Homo sapiens: one gene and its partner. The protein of the gene in region 2 interacts with the protein of the main gene of each other region in a pairwise test. Each region holds a gene or a part of one and is shown on either strand. Other genes may lie near its edges.

Evidence for each region. Proteins that work in one complex are often made in the same cells at the same time.
Region 1: the proteins of MEOX2 (region 2) and SHFL interact in binary tests that used the Homo sapiens proteins (3 or more experiments, as listed by UniProt).

Annotation. Positions count from the first base shown.
Region 1 is NC_000019.10:10,080,347-10,089,655, reverse strand, and holds the start of SHFL (shiftless antiviral inhibitor of ribosomal frameshifting protein), read right to left. Parts: upstream 3,340-9,309; 5' UTR 3,229-3,339; coding exon 3,208-3,228; intron 2,728-3,207; coding exon 2,604-2,727; intron 2,406-2,603; coding exon 2,356-2,405; intron 546-2,355; coding exon of another isoform or gene 278-545; intron 178-277; coding exon of another isoform or gene 167-177; exon of another isoform or gene 6-166; intron 1-5.
Region 2 is NC_000007.14:15,609,827-15,614,694, reverse strand, and holds the end of MEOX2 (homeobox protein MOX-2), read left to right. Parts: intron 1-2,083; coding exon 2,084-2,308; 3' UTR 2,309-3,483; downstream 3,484-4,868. UniProt on the Homo sapiens protein: Mesodermal transcription factor that plays a key role in somitogenesis and somitogenesis and limb muscle differentiation. Required during limb development for normal appendicular muscle formation and for the normal regulation of myogenic genes.

The DNA of each region.
Region 1 (9,309 bases), on a different chromosome or scaffold from region 2:
TGGGTGGAGATAGCAGGGGCAGAAACTGGGGATGGGGCTCAGGCCTCTTTCCACCCGTTTGCTGGGGGAGGCCCCCGGCCGCAATGAGTAGGGTGCCCCTAACTCGCCAGAAGCTCACAGAGCACCACTCACTTATTGAGAGCCAGGTGTGTGGCCTCAGTTGTCCTCATAGCAGCCCTGAGAGGTGGGCACACCTGTTACCTTATTGCTCAGATGGGGAAACTGAGGCTTAGGGGAGGGCTTGCCTGAGTGAGGCTAGCCTGACCCCCATACTCACTTCCTGCCTGCAAATGCCACATGCTTGTTGATGTTGTGACATATCGCCCCTTTGAGGCCACGTTGTGCTCGGCTAAGTGGGAGAGAGATGTGGGTTCAAATCCCAGCTGTATCACTTCCAGCTGTGGGGACTTGGGCAAGCCACTCCCTGCCCCCTGGGTTCCCACTGACAGGCATGTTAGAGCCCAGGCTCTGACTCCAGGTGGCCAGGGTTCAAATCGCAGCTGCCCCTGCTTGCTGGCAAGTGACTTCGGCCTCAGTTTCTTTGTCTGTGAAATGGGGATAAATAATAGGACCTGTCTCCTGGGGTCACTGCAGTGATGAAATAAATAAATTCCTGGAATCTTGCCATGTGGGAAGTACTCAATGAATGCTACTCTCTGCTAATATTATTATTATTATTATTATTATTATTATTATTATTATATTTTTGAGACGGAGTTTCGCTCTTGTCTCCCAGGCTAGAGTGCAATGGCACAATCTTGGCTGACTGCAACCTCTGCCTCCCAGGTTCAAGTGATTCTTCTGCCTTAGCCTGCCAAGTAGCTGGGATTACAAGCATGCACTGCCACGCCCAGCTAATTTTTTGTATTTTTAATAGAGAAGGGGTTTCACCGTGTTGGCCAGGCTAATCTCGAACTCCTGACCTCAAGTGATCTGCCCGCCTCAACCTCCCAAAGTGCTGGAATTACAGGCGTGAGCCACCACACCTGGCCCCTCTGCTATCATTTTTATCATACTTTTATATGTATAAATGTAGACTATGATACATGTTTTGTTATACTCTGGTTTTGTTTGTTTTTGTTTGTTTGAGACGGAGAATCGCTCTGTTGCCCAGGCTGGAGTGCAGTGGTGCGATCTCGGCTCACTGCAAGCTCCGCCTCCCGGGTTCACGCCATTCTCCTGCCTCAGCCTCCTGAGTAGCTGGGACTACAGGGGCCTGCCAGCACAACTGGCTAATTTTTTTTTTCGTATTTTTAGTATAGATGGGGTTTCACCATGTTAGCCAGGATGGTCTCGATCTCCTGACCTCATGATCCGCCCGCCTTGGCCTCCCAAAGTGCTGGGATTACAGGCGTGAGCCACCGCGCCCGGCATTTTTTTTTTTTTTTTTTTTTTGAGACAGAGTTTCGCTCTTGTTGCCCAGGCTGGAGTGCAATGGTGTGATCTCAGCTCACTGCAACCTCCGCCTCCTGGGTTCAAGTGATTCTCCTGCCTCAGCCTCCCGAGTAGCTGGGATTACAGGCATGCGCCACCATGCCCAGCTAATTTTGTATTTTTTAGTAGAGACGGGTTTCTCCATGTTGGTCAGGCTGGTCTCAAACTCCCGACCTCAGGTGATCCGCCCGCCTCGGCCTCCCAAAATGTTGGGATTGCAGGCGTGAGCCACCGCGCCTGGCCTATTATACTCTTTAACAGCCCTACACTAAGCCTTTCAGGCAGGCTAAATCCACAGCGTTCCCATCACCAAAGCTGTCAAAGAAGCAAAGTAGCCATGATGCACCTGTGCTTCAAAGCCATTCATTCATTCATTCATTCATTCATTCATTCATTCATTCAACACAAGGGTTCCATTCCCCTGCCTCTCTCTCCTCCCCAATCCTCTGCTCATCCTAGCCTTTCTAGAGACTGCCACTAACAACCCTTCCCCACCTCCCAGCCTTTGCTTATGCCATTCCCTCCCCCACCCCAAGACCCCTGCCTTTCTTTCCCTTTCCCCTCCCAGGGCTCACTCCTCCCCATCCTTTAAGACTTGGTACCTCCTCCTCCAGTAAGCCTTCTCTGACCTCTGCGCCCCCGCTATGATGGCAATAATCCTGGCTCCTTTCATTGCTTAGTTTCATGGCTCTCTCCCCCATTGAATACAATCAGCACATAATGAGCGCCTACTGTTTGCAGGCTCCCTGGCCGGACAAATGATGGAGAGGTGAAAAAGTGAGATTGGGTGATGAGTTATGGACCGACAATGCCTGGTCCCTCCTGTTTCAGAGGGGGGTCAGTCACCATGAACGGGTCGGGTCCCCCCTCTTGCTCTCCCTCCCGTGACCCGGTCCTTTGCGAGGGGAGGGGATAGGTTACCTGGGCATCCAGATCGTTACTTAGTTCTTGGCCATCTTTTTGCTTTACCCCTGCGGGGGAGAGTGCATATAAGGGAAGGGCCCTTGAAGGGTCTGTGGGAGTTCCAGGCCACCCAGAGCCGCGACGCAGAGCCTCCCCAAGGCTGGGACCTCCGGGGGAGGTGATCTCAACGCCTCTCCCTAGACCACGCCCCCTCGGCGCTCCCACGCGCGGTCCCCGCACCAGGCCCGGGACCCCTGCAGCCTCACCGTACACGATGGAGCGCCCCACTCCCGTGTGGTCGCTGCCGAATTTCCTCATCAGAGCCCCCGCCTTCTTGGAGGATACCTTCCCATGAAACTTCTCCCGGAGGCGCCGGACGCTCTTCTCCAGCTGGGATGGAGACAGGGGGGTTCCGGTGGGGGAAGGGGAAACGGGATCATCCCTCCCCCATCTCTAGGCACCGTTCTCCCGGCCCGAACTTGACCCTTGGTTTTGGCCTCCGCCGCCCCCCCCCCGCCTTTCATCCCTTTACGGCATTTCCTGGAAAAAGCCAAAGTCCCCACAGGGCGTTGGGGGAAGGCGCGGACTGGGGCGAGCGTCCCAGCCTAAGGTGTGGGGGGGCGGCCAGGTTATCTCTGGCCTCTGACCTTTGACCCTGCAGCCCCCGCTTTTCCTCGGGGAGGCCTCATTTCGCTCTGGGGAAACGTGGGAGTCACTTTCCTTTTCAAGGGGGGCGAGCGCCAGGCAGGGGTAAGGATCTGGGGTTCTAGGATGGGGGTCCCCAGGAACTGCGAAGCCCCCTCCGCGCCTCCCGGCCGCTCCTCGGGGTCTGTCGCGGCTGACCCCGGCCCAGCCGTAGCCATCGCTTACCTCCACACCTTCCTGAGACATGGTGGCGGCGGCGCAGTTCCCCGCGAGGGTCCGCACTGCGCGGCTCAGCCGCCCCCCTACCTGGGTGCGCCCGTCGGTCCAGCAGCCGCGCAGGGCAGGGGGCGGTGCCTCGGGGCCGGCTCCGCCCTTCCTCCCCGGCCCCTGTTTCGCTTTCGATTCAGGGGGGACCCGGCGCGCTGGCTCCGCCCTGGCTCCGCCTCTGCTCTTGCGCCCCAAACCCAGGCGGGCGCCCCGGGTCTGCACCCTGCGGCGGAGCGCGCAGACCTCGGACGGGGGAGGCGGCGCGGCCTCTGCAGTCGGTCACATGTCCCCACGCTGCGCGGGGTCCGCGTCTTCACGTCCCTCGTGGGGGCGGGGCCGCATCAGAAGGCCGCGGCGAGGCCCCGCGCCCCCCCACCCAGCGCGCGCTCCCCCAGTTCATCACCCTCCTCTCTGTTCTCCCTCCTTCCCCGGGAATCTGGCGCTCATGAGGACCTGGGCCCTTTTCCTGCCCTGAGTCTCTGTCCTAGCTACGGTCACCTCTCTCAACCTCAGTTTACCCCTCTGTGAAATGGGGAGAATCCTGGTGTCTACACCATGGAGTGGAGTATGTGCCAAGATTCCCGAGTGGATCGCGTAATAGCGCCTGGCTTGCAGTAGGCGTTCAACTAGTCACTGGGCCACCTGCTGTGTGCCCTTGATAGGGGCAGGCAGTGTGTGTGTGGTTGGGGGGAGCGGTGCTTGAGAAAAATACAGATTCTTGGTCTCTAGTAGCCCGGTAGAATCCGGCTGTCTCAGGGATCCAGGGAATCTGCAATGGTTAAGAACCCCGTGGGACGGACAATTCTAACCCAGTACAGGGCACATCAGGGAGCCCTTAGGTGGTGGGGCTCTGGCCCAGCCTGGGGACACAGAGATGGCAACTTCATTGGAGGAGGGGATGCTTTGTAGAGTCACTGAAATTGGAGGTCTTAGCTAGGGGAGGAATAGAGTGGGGAGATGAGGCAGCCGTGCAGAGCCCCCAAAGCAAGACTAAGTCTGGGGTTTTTGGGCAATGGCTTCTCAAGCCCAGCACTCTTGACACTTTGGGCGGCCTAGTTCTTTGTGTGGGGGACTGTCCTGTGTATTGGGGGACATTTAACACCATCCCTGGCCTCCACCCACTAGATGCCAGTGGTTCCCTACTCTCCCTGTTGTGACTACCAAAAACGTCTCCAGAGACTGCCGGATACTCTCTGAGGAGCAAAATAGCATTGTGTTCAACGACTCCAAATTTTTTTCTCCATTGCACACCCCTATAGGTAAAAGTGTTAAAGTTACACCCCCAGATGGATATTTATTCATTTATTTATTTTTTGAGACAAGATCTTGCTCTGTTGCCCAGGCTGGAGTGCAGTGGTTTGATGGTGGCTCACTGCAGCCTCTAACTCCTGGGCTCAAACGATCCTCCTGCCTCAGCCTGCTAAGTAGCTGGGACTACTGGCATATGCCACTATGCCTGGTTAATTTTCTATTTTTTTTGTAGAGACGGGGTCTCACTATGTTGCCCAGGCTGGTCTCAAACTCCTGGCCTCAAAGATGGATATTATTTATAAATTATATACAAATACAATTATATCAATATATTCTGTTAACTGTTATATAAAATATTGATAGATAAATGGAGCTGGGCATGATGGTTCACACCTGTAATGCTAGCACTTTGGGAGGTCAAGGTGGGAGAATCACTGGAGGTCAGGAGTTCAAAACCAGCCTGGGCAACATAGCAAGACCTTGTCTTTAAAAAAAGAAAAAAGAAAAGGAAAAAGTTATTTTTAAAAGACTAAAAAACAAACAATAAAACCCCCCAAATCTAGATATTCTAAAGTTTTTCCAGTTGAACCCCAAAGCTTTGTTTATAGGGTGTATGTACTCCACTCTGGAGACTACTGTATTTGCAAACTACAAGCAGTTCATGATTCCTTGTGGCTGAATGGTGGAATCCTAGGCAGGATGGGGGCTGGAAACTGCACAGAAGACCTGGGATTTTATCCTGAGGGAAGTGGCGAGGTTTGGAGTGGATCGCCTGTCATAGTTGCCAGTTACTAATCTATTTGCCCAGTGCAGAGGGAGGTCATAGCTATGTCCCATTCACTGGCCGAGATGGGCACTGAGTGGGCAGGAAACAGGTAAGAGTCTGAGCTAGCCCTGACATAAATCAGATCTGGTAGGTTTTTTGTTTTTTGATTTTTTTTTTTAGCGCAGAATATGCAGACCAAAGGTCTGTTAGGTTATAATCACCGTGGCAACCACATAGAGCGTGTACTCTGTTCCCAATGCTGTTCCAGGCACTGTGGACATGACAGCAAACAAAACAAAGATCCCTGCCCTCGTAGAGCTAGCATTTTTTTAAATTTGTTTTAAGAGACGGGGTCTCACTCTGTCACCCAGGCTGGCGTGCAGTGGCACAATCATAGCTCCGCTGCAGCCTCAACCTCCTGAGCTCAAGCAATCCTCCGGCCTTGGCCTTCTGAGTAGCTGGGACTGCAGGTATGTGCCACCACATCCGGCTAATTTGTTTGTTATTTTGTTGTTGTTTTGTTTGGGTTTTGTTTTTGTTTTGAGACAGAGTCTTGCTCTGTCACCCAGGTTGCAGTGCAGTGGCACGATCTCGGCTCGCTGCAACCTCTGCCTCCCGGGTTCAGGCAATTCTCCTGCCTCAGCCTCCCGAGTAGTTGGGACTACATGCATGTGCCACCACTCCCGGCTAATTTTTATACTTTTTTGTAGAGCTGGGGGCGGGGGGGTCTCACTATGTTGCCCAGGCTGGTCTTGAACCCCTGGGCTTAAGTGATCCTGTTGCCTTGGCCTCCCAAAATGCTGGGATTTCAGGTGTGAGTCACTGCACCTGGTCCATCCTTATGATTTCATGTGGTCTTTGTAGCTTAGGACTTGAGAAATGGCTTTGCTGCTGGGCTGTTCTGGCTCAGGGCCTCTCAGAAGGTTGCAGTTAAGGAGTTGGTCAGGGCTTCAGTCATCTGAAGGTTTGACGGGGGCTGGCGAATCTGCTTCCAAGGTGGCTCACTCTCAGGGCATGCAGATGGGTGCTATGATTGGCGGGATGCCTCGATTCCTCCCAGTATACTTGAGTGGCATGAGTGTACTCCCAGCATGGGAGCTGGCCTCCCGAGCACCTTCCAAGAGCTGAGAGCCAGGTGGAAGTTGTATCTTTTTATGATCTAGCCTGAAAGTCCCACATCACTTCAGCCACATTATGTACATTAAAAGCTCATTGACTGGGCACAGTGGCTCATGCCTGTAATCTCGGCACTTGGGAAGCCAAGGCAGGAGGATCACTTGAGGCCAGGATTTCGAGGCCATGCTGGGCAACATAGTGAGACCCCATCAGCCAGGCGCGGTGGCTCACTCTTGTAACCCCAGCACTTTACGAGACCAAAGTAGGTGGATCACCTGAGGTCAGGAATTCGAGACCAGCCTGGCTAACATGGAAACCTCATCTCTACTAAAAATACAAAAATTAGCTGGGCGTGGTGGCGGGTACCTGTAATCCCAGCTATTTGGGAGGCTGAGGCAGGAAAATCACTTGAACCCAGGAGGCAGAGGTTGCAGTGAGCCAAGATTATGCCACTGCACTCCAGCCTGGGTGACAGAGCAAGACTCTGTCTCAAAACCAAAACGAAACAAAACAAAACAAAACAAAAAAAGCAGCAAATCTTGACCTGGAACTGGACCCTTGGAGGCTTAAGCTGGGCGACTGTGTTCAATTATGGAGGAAGGCCGGGTGCAGTGGCTCACACCTGTAATCCCAGCACTTTGGGAGGCCCAGGAGGGCAGATCACTTGAGGCCAAGAGTTCGAAACCAGCCTGGCCAACATGGCAAAATCCTGTCTACTAAAAATACAAAAAATAGCCAGGCATGGTGGTGTGTGCCTGTAGTCCCAGCTACTCGGGAGGCTGAGGTGGGGGAATCACTTGAACCCGGGAGGCAGAGGTTGCCGTGAGCCGAGATCGCACAACTACACTCCAGCCTGGGCAATAGAGTGAGACTCCATCTCAAAAAAAAAAAAAAATTGCTGGGCACGGTGGCTCACGCCTGTAATCCCAGCACCTTGGGAGGCTGAGAGCCCAAGGTGGGGATCACCTGAGGTCGGGAGTTCCAGACCAGCCTGACCAACATGGAGAAACCCTGTCTCTACTAAAAATACAAAATTAGCCAGGCATGGTGGCGCATGCCTGTAATCCTAGCTACTCGGGAGGCTGAGGCAGGAGAATTGCTTGAACCCAGGAGGCGGAGGTTGCGGTGAGCCGAGATCGTGCCATTGTACTCCAGCCTGGGCAACAAGAGCAAAACTCCATCTCAAAAAAAAAAAAAAAAAGAAAAGAAAAAAAATATTGTGGAGGAGATGGAGACCATTGGAGCATGTGCATGCTTTTCACAATCTAGTCAATTTCCCACTCCAGTTGAGTCAAATGAAAAATTGATCGGGAATGCTCAGAGCTGGAGAAGCTGTAGGGAAATGAGAAATCTCCCAAATCATTAGAGACAGCATCCGTTGGTGAAACCTTTTGGGAAGGACACCATGGAAAAATCTACTACTAAACTATTAAGCATGCTGGATTAATCATGTCTCTCATTTTCTGTTGCTGTCTTCTTCTTCTCTTTGTCCTTCTCCTTCCTCCTCCTCCTTCCTCCTCCTCCCTCCTCCTCCTTCTCTTCCTCCTCCTCCTCCTCTTATTCTTCTTCCTTTTTTTTGTTTTTGAGATGGAGTCTCGCTCTGTCGCCCAGGCTGGAGTGCAGTGGTGCGATCTCGGCTCACTGCAAGATCCGCCTCCCGGGTTCATGCCATTCTCCTGCCTCAGCCTCCCAAGTAGCTGGAACTACAGGCGCCCACCACCACGCCCAGTTAATTTTTTGTATTTTTAGTAGAGACGGGGTTTCACCGTGTTAACCAGGATGGTCTTGATCTCCTGACCTCATGATCTGCCTGCCTCAGCCTCCCAAAGTGCTGGGATTACAAGCGTGAGCTACTGCGCCTGGCCTTTTTTTTTTTTTTTTTTTTTTTGAGACAGAGTCTTGCTCTGCCACCCAGACTGGAGTGCCGTGTCATCATCATAGCTCACTGCAGCCTTGAATTCCTGGGCTCGAGCGATCCTCCTGCCTCAGCCTCCCAAGTAGCTGTGACGATAGGTGTGCACCATCATGTCAGCTAATTTTATTATTTGTGTAGAGACGGGGTCTCACTATGTTGCCTGGGCTGATCTTGACCTCCTGGGCTCAAGTGATCCTCCCTCCTCGGCCCCCCAAAGCCCTGAGATTACAGGCATGAGCCACTGCACCTGGTTTGAATTTTTCTTGCAACAAGCATCTAATCTATCATTTTGTAGTGAGAAAAAAAAATACCCAATAAGATAAATCCAATTAATTTTCTTTTCTTTTTTCTTTTTTTCTTTTTTTAAGACAGTGTCTTGCTCTGTCGCCCAGGCTGGAGTGCAATGGCGTGCTCTCTGCTCACTGCAACCTCGACCTCCCGGGTTCAAGCGATTCTCCTGGCTTAGCCCCTTGTGAAGCTGGGATTACAGGCACGTGCTGCCACGCCCAGCTAATATTTTGTATCTTTAGTAGAGACAGAGTTTCACCATGTTGGCCAGGTTGGTCTCGAACTCCTGACCTCGTGATCTGCCCACCTCAGCCTCCCAAAGTGCCGGGATTACAGGTATGAGCCATCACGCCCAGCCAATCCAATTAATTTTTAAAAATAACATGTATGAAACCCTGGACACTATCTTTGACAATGATGCCTAACAGGTGAGAAGTAATTTGGGATTTTATAATTTGAGTAGTTCTCAGTAAATGGAACATCCTTTGTAGCACAGAAATCTGTTGTTCGACTTTTGTGAAATCAGTTTCATACATTTTTCCAGGAATACATTATGTGCAAAAGTTGAGGAACCTGTTTAATGGGGCTCTGCTCAAATGAATTTGGTGAGTGGTGAGTGGAGAAATTATAATGGCTAAAATAAATTCCCTGAGTGTATCTGGAGCTCACTGAGTGTCAGGCTGTCTGCAGGTTATGCCCTAGGCCTTAGGATCTTCTGGCTTAG
Region 2 (4,868 bases):
TAATAAGATAATGTGGTTTTATCAAAACTATAGAAAAATTAATAAAGGAACAGAACAGAATACAGCAATAAAGCTATGCATATATGGAAACTTGATTTATGAACACAGATGAAACAGTGATCACTGGAAAAAAGCTGGGTTATTTAATAAATGGACCTGGGACAATGTGTTATCCATTTAAAATAAAGTAAAGTTAAGCCTATTCTTCAGACTATATACTAAAATCAGTACTTCATTGATTAAGTACCTCAGTTTGAAAGGCAAACTTTTTTTTTCTTTTTGAGACAGGATCTTGCTCTGTTGCCCAGGCTGGAGTGCAGTGGTGCAACAACCACTGACTGCAACCTCAACCACTTGGGCTCAAGCAATCCTCCAACCCTAGCCTCCTGAGAAGCTGGGACTACAGGCACTATGCCATCCCACCCACCTAATTTTATTTTATTTTATTTTATTTTATTTTATTTTATTTTATTTTATTTTATTTTATTTTATCTATTTATTTGTAGAGACAGGGTCCCACTGTGTTGGAAAAGGCAACCTTTAAAACTCTTAGAAGAAGACACAATAGAATATCTTACTGGCTTCAGAAAATAGATTTTTTTAGAAAAAGAAAACACAAAACACTAGTCATAAAAGAAACAATAGATAAATTTAAACATATTAATTAATATTAAGAGTTTCTAATCATCAAAAGACACTCTAAGAAAAGGAAAAAGAAACAGCATACATTGAGAGAAGATAGATAGCAGCAGCCATATAACTGCAGTCTCCAGGGAAGTTCCCATGATATGCTTATCAGGACACAAATGCAAGAATGTCTATAGCAGCATTACATATAGAAAAAAAAGAATTCAAATATCCATGGATGGTAGAACAGAAAAATGGTGCTATATTGACAGAATTTGGAATATTATACAATGATAAAAAATAAATAAATAGAGTCTTTTGAATCAACAAAGATGTGGCAAAAAGCCTACACTTAGGAACATTCCATTGATAAACCTAACAAACAAATAAAATTAAAGAGTATAGTTTTAATATTACTTGTTATGAAAAAAATTTGTTTTCTTTTTTAAGAAAGACTTGGAGGTGACACACAAAATTCAGGCTTGTGGTACTTTTAGGTGGGGTAGACAGAGAAATACAATGTAAAAAGAACACTTTGCTTGCTAGAAGCTATAATTATGAGAAATGCAATGTGAAAGAAACAGATTTCCTCCTAAACAAGATGCAATAATGCCAATTATATTCTAGTTCTGATAATGTATAGACCTTTAATGTCTGTTTGCTGTTTTTTTTGTTTTTAATACATATATGTTATTTAAATATATATATTTATTTAAATGTATTAGGCAAATTCAATGAAGCTTTTAAAAAGAAAATACCTGTACAAAGCTGATGTGAATGATGTAGTATATAATCTTGGTGTTAGCATTTAACAAATGTTGAGAATTTTTTATTGTGACCATATTTTAAAGAAATCACTAGATCAAATATTTGCAAAGTAAAATAAATGAATTAAGGTAGAAAATAAAAAGAAGAGTTCAAAAGAAGATAGGCTCAGTGTGAGGTGGAATGGTCAAATAAAGATTTGTGAAAGCAGCAGTAGTTTCTGATGGCAGAGTATGGCCTTTCAGATGCCGCTTAATCAGTAGCTGCAGGAGCATGTTTTAAATTGGTTCAGGAAATGACAGCTGGATGTCAAATCAAAGAAGAACTTAGGAGTGGGGGGCTTTGACCAACACAAATATTATGTTAGCTCCAATTCACAGAAGCTCTTTATAGACGCAAGTGCTTTGAGTGCCTTAAATGACAAAGTTTTTGTTTAGTTCCATATTTTACATTGTATGCTGTAAAATACAAATATAGTACTTTGTATGCACCTTTTGAAACTTTAAAAATTATTATCATGAACATGTAACCTGATTAAATTCAACGTGGATTTATTTTTCTATTCACTCCTTCATGGTGTCTTTGTATAAGCCTTTGAGGAACTTCTTTTCATTGATGACACTAAGGAGAAAAAAATGTCACTTTAATTATCTCTTTTTTTCTGTTTGTTTGTTCCCTTTCTTGGTTGAAGGTGAAAGTCTGGTTCCAAAACAGGCGGATGAAGTGGAAGAGGGTAAAGGGTGGACAGCAAGGAGCTGCGGCTCGGGAAAAGGAACTGGTGAATGTGAAAAAGGGAACACTTCTCCCATCAGAGCTGTCGGGAATTGGTGCAGCCACCCTCCAGCAAACAGGGGACTCTATAGCAAATGAAGACAGTCACGACAGTGACCACAGCTCAGAGCATGCGCACTTATGATATAAACAGAGGACCAGCTCCATTCTCAGGAAAGAAATGTTGTGATGGCAAGCCTTACCCAAATATCGTTTACACAGAGAGATGACTATGGCAGTGATGTTTAATATTATTAAATCCAGGCATTTCGAATCTGTTTTTCATGATTTATAGAGGGTTTACACAAAGTGCCACTTATTAAAGAGCTTCCACAGTGAAGATGGAGAAGGTGAACTTGCTTTGAATATTCCAGATGTGTTTGGTCGTGCGTATGGCAGTGAGCAGGTATGTGTTTGCTTTTGCTTGCACTGAAAATTAAATTGCTATCAAGAGCAAACTATGAACGGTTTTTTATTCAAGATGTCTCCAGAGTGAAGATGCCGAGGATGAACTTGCATTGAACATTCCAGATGTGTGAGATCATGTGTATTACAGTGGGCAGGTATTTGCTTTTGCTTGCACTGAAAATTAAATTGCTATCAAGAATAAACCATGAAACATTTTATCCTGAACAGCCACAGTGCCTGAATTCACTCAAGTGGATAAAAAGTGTATTTTAACTCTGTATATATTACCCTTAAGTCATTTTCCTGTCTTCACTAATTTAGCAATGCATTCATATTAGCTGATGAAAATAGGCACTCACAATGACAACCAGAGCCAGTTTCTTGTCTTTTTTATACATTTTGTCATCCCAGAGACAATCAGTATGTGCTTACCTGTGTTCAAGTAGAGAAAAATACAGTAGAGTCTGATAGGACATATTCTTGTACCACAGACAAAACAAATCTTATGTTGCATTTACTATCAACTGCTGCTAATACGTTATTATAAAACTTACCTAGCTCCTGAATTCTTCCTATCTTATAGCTTAAAACAATTAGGATCATAGGCAAATCAGTTACCTTGCAGAAAGAGCTTTGTATGACAGACATTGTCTTATTTTATTTCTGTAAAATATTAGCTGTATGAATATGATTTAATTAACAAGAAAACATTTCTTCCTGATTGACAACAGTGTTAGACAAGGTGCAAAGCGAAACTGGTTGCTCAAGTTGATAGAAAACAAAATTCTGAATATCTTCAAATTAAATTCGGTAAAAACACATTATTTTTTCATATGTGATGTATTCATGCAGAACAACTATCTTTGTATTTTGTTTTTAAAATGTGTTTAATAAATGATCCTTTGTAAATAACTTTGGTCTCCCTACATTAATTTTCTTAATTTTTATAGATTTCAATATCAATGATTAACAAAGTCTCAAATCTATCTGCACTTGTGCAAATCCAGATGATTATAATTAGTGGATTATTTACATTTTTTCATTTCTGAATTTTTTTATTATGGCAGGAAAAAAATAAATCCTTGTGTAATCAAAGGGCGCCTAAGAATGGGCATATATTAAGCTATTTCTCTAATTTGAAGAATACAGTGAATGGATTTTTTTGTGTGTTTTATGAAGCCACAGATAAAAGTAGGAAAAAAGTATTAAATAATAGTATTCACCACAGTGAGGAAAATAAAATAGTCATACATTTTTAAAGTTATGTCTGATATATGTAAGTTAATCCAACAGTGGTTTTATAGTCTGAATATGCAGAGTCTCTGATGTGAAATATAAGCTAAAGAAGCTAATCAGAGTCCTCAGTTCTAATGGGACTAATGCAAGAAGTAAAGGATGCTATTAACATAATGTATTTTGCATCATGCATGATTGCACACGCATGGGGTGCCTTAGTCCTACTTATAGCTTTATCACATTGTTTTTCATTTGTTTCATATTCTAAGCAGAAATGCTTGGAAACATTGCCAGCCTTCCTCCCCTGCCTCAATCCGAAACAAATACAGAAAAACAATCAGTAAAAATTTCCAAAAACCCATCAGTTAATTGATTACACTTGCTTTAGAATGATCAGACTGACAAAAATTAATTTGATATATTTTAACTTAATCTAGCGTGATATATAGAGAGTATCCCAGAAATAAATAATTTTTTTGTATCACATTTTCCTTTCATGTAATACATTTTACCTCAGTAGTTGTCAGTATTTTAAAATTAACTGAGAATAGACCATTCGAATTGAGGTCTCCCAGGCATGAAACAGACACTTTTCCATTAATCACCTGAATTAATACAAAGTCTGCTTGTGCTGATGACATCTACTTGGGTGGACTGACTTTCTTACTGTAGAAGAGGATTTAAATTCAAAACATCTTGACAAATTAGTGAAGTGGGAAGATATGAATCAAATTGAGTTCAATAGGGACAAAGTGGAGGATAATTCATTTGGGCAGGAAAATAATTTCCAGAAATAAGAGAAAAGGACCCCTTAGAAGTAGCTAAAAGGAGAGCTAATGGTTGTAGCCAAATAGACGTAAGAATTCCAATGTAGTAAGAAAATGAAATAGGAAAAAGGGATTCCGAATAGATATAACATTCGGGAAATGGGAGGTTTTTGTATCATGGCCATATCTTTATTAGAGAATTGTAAGCAATCCTGAAATGAAATTTGATCCAGAGAACACAAAGTGGTAGGAAAGGCCACATGGCTGACTGAAAAGAGACATCACTTTCTTTAT